2 linked regions of the Homo sapiens genome follow. The protein of the gene in region 2 purifies or fractionates together with the protein of the main gene of each other region. This does not show direct contact. Each region holds a gene or a part of one and is shown on either strand. Other genes may lie near its edges.

The links. Proteins that work in one complex are often made in the same cells at the same time.
Region 1: the proteins of HEPACAM2 (region 2) and BMPR1A purify together in Homo sapiens (affinity purification with mass spectrometry; 3 studies listed by BioGRID and IntAct, with this or other methods). This does not show direct contact.

What each region holds. Positions count from the first base shown.
Region 1 is NC_000010.11:86,917,119-86,920,618, forward strand, and holds part of BMPR1A (bone morphogenetic protein receptor type-1A isoform 3 precursor), read left to right. Parts: intron 1-15; coding exon 16-208; intron 209-2,053; coding exon 2,054-2,351; intron 2,352-3,500. UniProt on the Homo sapiens protein: On ligand binding, forms a receptor complex consisting of two type II and two type I transmembrane serine/threonine kinases.
Region 2 is NC_000007.14:93,212,970-93,216,469, forward strand, and holds part of HEPACAM2 (HEPACAM family member 2 isoform 1 precursor), read right to left. Parts: intron 2,717-3,500; coding exon 2,432-2,716; intron 1-2,431. UniProt on the Homo sapiens protein: Required during prometaphase for centrosome maturation.

The DNA of each region.
Region 1 (3,500 bases), on a different chromosome or scaffold from region 2:
CTTTTTTCTATAAAGGTTCAGCGAACTATTGCCAAACAGATTCAGATGGTCCGGCAAGTTGGTAAAGGCCGATATGGAGAAGTATGGATGGGCAAATGGCGTGGCGAAAAAGTGGCGGTGAAAGTATTCTTTACCACTGAAGAAGCCAGCTGGTTTCGAGAAACAGAAATCTACCAAACTGTGCTAATGCGCCATGAAAACATACTTGGTGGGTACACACTGATTCAGTCAATTTCATTTTTGACAAGGCTAGTGAGGTACAGGTGGAAGCCTCCATATGTGCTTTGAAAATGTGTGAGTTCAACTATATACATTTGGCTAAAGGAAACCTAGTAGAATACACGGTTTGAATAAAACATAGTCCGGAATGCCAACCAAGATCTTTCTTTACTAACCAGCTGAAGAAACAGCAGTGAGTTTCAAATGGAAAATAATACTAGTTTATTGGACTTACTCCCATAGTAATGAAAACCCAGTCTTTTATAGATAACTTAAGCAGTGATTTAGGGTAACATTAACATATGTGCCTTTTCCCTTTCATAAGCTCAACAGCCCAACATGCAGTTTCATTGTACGTTCTGTGTTTAATGTGTGTTTCCCCCCATCTCCACATTTACACAATAGCAAAGTAATTTAGGTGTGAGCTGGTCAGTCAGGTACATAAGCCGATCTGGCTATCCTGAGTTTTCTTTTCCCTTCACCTCTTGTTTTCCTCCCTTTAATTTGGAGAGCCCATAGCATGTTGCCAAGCAGGCAATTGTATTAGTTTCCTAGGGCTGCTGTATCAATTACCACAAACTGGGTGGCTTCAACCTCCAAAACGTATTCACTCAGTTTTCGAGGCTAGAAGTTTAAAACCAAGGTGTTGGCAGAGCTGTTGTGTCTCTGAATACTCTAGAGGAGGAGCCTTCCTTGCCTCCTCTGGCTACTGGTTGGTGGCCAGGAATTTTTGGTGTTCCTTGGCTTAGTATAGACAACACTCTAGTCTCCATTTCTGTCATCAGGTGGCCTTCTCCCTGGGTGCCTGGGTCCACATTTCCACCTTACAACATCACCAGCCATTGAATTCGGGCCCACGCTAATCCTGTATGAGTCATCTTAACTTGATTACATCTGCAAAGACCCTCTTTCCAAATAAGGTCACGTTTATAGATGACATGGATTTTAGACATGAATTTTGTCGGGGAGCACTGTTCAGCTCAGTACATAGCACTCACTGACCTTTTTCTGGAGGGAAGAGGGTAGGAGAGAAAGGAAAAGAGCAGGACTGTGGGCCTGGCAGTCAACGAGCCAGACTGAAAAGGCAGCTGTGATGAGTCACTGATGGGCAAATGGGAGTTGGCTTAATTAGGAGCTAACTCTTAGTTGAACATTCTTAATTTTATAAAAGTGTCCACTTTTTGCTTTGAAATTGAGAGCCTTTTCTACTAGAGAATCATGTAGGTTGATAATATTCTCCAGGTTATTTGTATAATATGTCATCTTTTTCTTTTCTTTCCTTTTCTTTTCTTTTTTTTTTTTTTGAGACGGAGTCTCATTCTGTCGCTCAGGCTGGAGTGCAGTGGCGCCATCTTGGCTCACTGCAACCTCTGCCGCCAGGTTCAAGTGATTCTCTTGCCTCAGCCTCCAGAGTAGCCGGGACCACAGGCACTTGCCACCATGCCCAACTAATTTTTGTATTTTTAGTAGAGACGGGGTTTCGCCCTGTTGGCCAGGCTGGTCTCGAGCTCCTGACCTCAAGTGATCCTCCTGCCTTGGCCTCCCAAAGTGATACAGGTGTGAGCCACCACACCCAGCATATATGATCTTTTTCTTAATCCTATTCACTTTCATGATTATTAAGATTATTATAAATTTATTGTAGAAGTACAGATATATGTGTAAATGTAGAAATATAATTTTTAGTAACACATTCACGACTTGGTGTCAGGCGAATTAAAGTTTCACTATCTGCACATGATACCTAAGTTTTTCTCAGTATCCAGAATGAGCATTACTTCTCCCTAGCCTATCTCTGATGATAACTAACCTTTTAAACTCATCAACTGGACAGGTTTCATAGCGGCAGACATTAAAGGTACAGGTTCCTGGACTCAGCTCTATTTGATTACTGATTACCATGAAAATGGATCTCTCTATGACTTCCTGAAATGTGCTACACTGGACACCAGAGCCCTGCTTAAATTGGCTTATTCAGCTGCCTGTGGTCTGTGCCACCTGCACACAGAAATTTATGGCACCCAAGGAAAGCCCGCAATTGCTCATCGAGACCTAAAGAGCAAAAACATCCTCATCAAGAAAAATGGGAGTTGCTGCATTGCTGACCTGGGCCTTGCTGTTAAATTCAACAGGTGAGTGGTTCTTTGCCCCACTGTTTTGAAATTATTTTAATTTCCAAAAGATATTTCCCTATTTGTATTCAAGATAATGGAATTCTAAAAATGTGCATATGCTTGTTTTTAGTTACATAAATGTATAGTTGGGGGGGATTTTGTTCTTTTTACAAAAATTGTGTCCTACTTCTCCTATACATAATTCTTGATATATATATATTTTTTTGGTGTTTTTTTTTGTTTGTTTTTTGTTTTTTGTTTTTTGTTTTTTTTAAAGACAGTGTCTCACTCAGTTGCCCAGGCTGGAATATAGTAGTGTGATCTTAGCTCACTGCAACCTCGACCTCATGGGCTCAAGCAATCCTCCCACCTCAGCCTCCTGAGTAGCTGGGACTACAGGCATGCACTGCCACACCTAGCTAATGTTTTTATTTTTTGCGGAGATGGGGTCTCACTGTGTTGCCTAGGCTGGTCTCAAACTCCTAGGCTCAGCTGATCCTCCCAAAGTGCTGGGATTACAGGTGTGTGCCATATAGTCTTAGCCATCCTTCCATTTCAGCTGATGTAAATCTACTTCATTCTTTTTAACAGATGCAGAGTTTTCCATATGTGGAGGTACTGTAGTTTATTCTTAAGACCCAACTGATGAACATTAAAGGTGTCTTCAGTTGATTATGAAAAGGTTTTTTAATGAACATTGTTGTATTTTAACCATATATTATATATTTGATCCTTGTGCACTTGTACAAGCATTTCTTCATGATGGATTCCTAGAGAAGGGCCTGCTGAGGCAGTGAGTTTATACATATTAAACTATGGTATGTTGCATATTATTTCTTTCAGCAGTGTGCCTCAGTTTACACACCCGTAAGCAGTAGAGATAAGGATGTCATTTTTCTGTCACCACTTGATAGTGTCAGTATTTTAAAACAAATGCAAGTGTTAGAAATTACAAATTTTTAGGAAACCTTTGAAACCATTTTAATCTTGTAATTCTAGAATGGAGTGGCTGCTTTACATTTCAGAATTCATTTTAGGCTGTAATATAAAAGTACCAGTCTTTAAAACAACTGTAAGAGACATTTAAATCTGTTACAGTGTTCTGAGTCAGTGTAGTATTTGTTGGCTCAGATATTTATCAGATGCTATAGGAAAATACAACGCATT
Region 2 (3,500 bases):
TTGCCTTGGGGATGGCTGTTTACTAAATGACTTGTAAAATCACATATCATCTGTTCTCTTTAACAATTTATGGCTGTGTGGGAACAGTGCCTAAATTTACATCATGATGCTGTTTGCCGCCCTGCTTGGGAGCAGATGGTAAGTATTTACTGTGAATGACCTTTTTTCCCCTTTAATTTTTATCACTTAGAGCTCTCCACTGCAGCATTGCCATATGTTGCACACAAAATGCAGTGGTTACTGGGTTATTATTTACAACTGGAGCTTGAAGGCATATCATGAACTGCAAGTAGATACTTGTCTGAGTTATTGGCTTGACATTGTATTCCACCAAGGCCAATACCAGATTATGACATCACAACCTCATAAGTATATAGTCAATCTTAATAGATTTTATTATACTTTTTCTGCCAAAATAAAAAATAGTTCCTACTTTCATGAAAAAACCCTTCACAGAAACAGTGCCTTTAGAAAACAGAATACTTGATTTTGCTAAAGGTCAGGAAAAAAAAGTGCCAAAGCACTATAATGAAGAAGCTGTCACCTTATAATGAGAATTTAGCCTTTTTACAGCATCGTCAAGTAACACTGGAATCTAAAAGGGATATGAAGAAAGATAATCTGTTCCATTTTAGTTAAGTTCAAGAAACTTTATTGATTTCTTAATCTCTGTCAGCTATTGCCCTATGGATACAAAGATGAAGAATGCAGAACTCTGGTTTGGGTTTGGGGTGTTCACAAGAGTCAAGGAAAATATAAAGCAGTGAGGACCCGGAATGAGAGTGCCTAGGATGCTGAAGGAGCACAATGAACCTGTTAGTGACACTGAGGAGGTGAGATAAGTGGAGGCAGGTAAACCTTTCTGGAAAGGATGATGATGTCATGAGGCAAGAAGAAGGCAACCAGATGAAGAAAGAGAAGTGTGAATAACACCAACCAAGGCACATATTCCCAGCTTGCAGGGAATGATAAAGATTGTAAACATTTGGATGCCACATCCACAGATAGGATATACAACCAATCTTCAGATTACAGTATATATTTTATTTAATTTTTGTTACTCAAAAGCAACAAAACCAACCAACCAGAACAAAAACAGGGCTAAAATAGTGATAGCAAGAAAAATTATTAAATTAATGGGTCTGGGTTGTGTTTGTACATGTTATATGGTAGGTAGTAATTGTTTAGCACAAACAAGACCCTGATGTTTCATTTTTTAAAATCAAATAATCTATAAATGAATGAGTGCATAAATGAATAAGTAAGTGAATGAATGAATATCAATAAGATGAGATGTTGACCAAGTGAAGAATTCTGCATTTGAAAGTAAAAATAGTGAAGACAAAAATTAGTAATGCAATGTTCACAATTACCAATTAATGAGTCAAAATCTTTCTTAAGCCATGTAGATAATTCATCTTTACAATGTGTAAATGGAAGCCACATTTGTAAATTGTCTAAATGTTCTTCTTTCTATTATCTGTCGTTAGTCTTTGCATGTGATAGGTGTTTCTCTATGAGATTTTCATAGGTAATGTTTAAAATAATGTAAAGAAGAAAGTTCAGTCTGTCAGCAAAAGATAGATTCTGTAAAGTGTGAACTTACTCAAATTGGGGTATTCTCATTCTTTCAAATAACATCGTGAAGGAAAGAAGGCTTAGGAGCCTAAAGCATAATATTTAACATTTGCAGGTTTGATTATGGTTTTCTCTCCCATTTTTATATTTTCCACACTGTGTATCACAGCATATTCTGTGATAATAATGAGATTGGTGCATAGACTTGCACATGTTGAAAGAAAGATGTTATTTTCATTTTGCCAGATTAATATGAACTGTATAGCAAAACAAAAGTATATGTCAAAAATGATATTTGCATTTGCCTATAATTGCTTAAGTAAATTTCCCCAGGACTTTTTCATTTAAACCTATGGCTAGAGTTTAAAGACAGGCAGGTAGGGATGGGAAGACATACAGATAAAGAGCTAGAAGAAAGAATTGATGTAAAGAAAATATTTTACAAGAGAAGAATAAAGTATGTTAAATTCAGGAATGGTAATATTTGGAGAGGAAAAAAGTTCTCAAGATATTCTTTCAGTTTTTTTCATTGCAGCCTCTGCATTGTTCTGGGTTCTTGAAATTGAGAATCTTGCTTTCCGCTGGAAATGAGGTCGCACAATAGACTGAATCACGAAATACAACCTGAGTGGCCCCTGGCCAGTATTTCAACTTGATCTTTAAGAAATAGGATTGTGCTAGCAGACATATTTCATACAAGACAGTGCCTAGGAGGTGTGATTAGAACTATTGAACTACAATAATGGTAAAAAGCCAAATGACATCTGGTACTTATATTCTCTGTGACTATCCTGGGAGATATTCTCAGAAAACAACAAAAAACAACTCATGAGTTAAAAAAAAATAAACTTACAATATATGATGGGCATAATGATATCACTTTCCATTTCACTGACAGGGTTCCTCACCAGGCAGCTGTAATTCCCAATGTCTTCCTTGGTTACTGGAGCAATATGAAGGGTATTGTTTTGGGGAGAAAAGGAGTAGGTGGAGCTGGTGTGGACAGGTCTCCCATTTTTTAGCCATTGGTAAGCTAGCCGAGTGCCCCCTTCCACATGGCATGTCAGGGTCATGTTCCCCACATACTCCACAGCCCCAGAGGGAGGATGAATCTGCACCACTGGCTTTGTGACAGGATCTGCAATATTAAGAGAGATATGAATGATTTTTTCTTTTCATGGAAATATAATAAAACCCTATGAGGTCTTTCAAATATGAACTCCTGGAGAAATTATTCCAGCATTTTACACTGTAAATGTAGACAGCTCAGGTAATAACTAAAGAAGAGAAGAGAATAAAAAGCCAGGGAAAATGCAAAATGACAAAATATGAGAATATCATTTATAGTCAGAGATAATCAAATTCCAGAACTTACTTTTCAAGGATGGTCTAATGAAGCCCTTTACTTTATAGGTGGCTGAGAATGTCAGCTTCCTTATTTCCTGTTCATTGTGCTTTCACCAACACCATAAAGGTACACTTTCACAGGCAAAATTTTTATGGTTATTCCCCTCTATTGATTTGTCCTAATGTCCCAATAGCAGCTGGTTGGGATGGATGTGGTGAACTCAAATTTCTATCATCTGCAAAATATACAGCTAACATATATACTATACTTTTGGGAAACTGAGGGATAATTTTAGTGAATCACATATGTAAAACTATTCTTTCTATGTATGTCATGAAGCAATTATAAACTTTAATTGCTTTGCATTTGTGTTGTAACATTATGTTAGGCACTTTAACAAACCAAAACCTACATTTATTTCAACACTGACTCAGTCTGAAAATAGGATAAAATATATTCTTGGGCTTTTATCAAATTAGAGAAAAAAATACAAATCCGATAGAAATTCCTGTTGGAAAGTCAAGTCATAGGAAAATAGTCTTATTTCATCATCTGCCACACAGTAGGCTCTTAA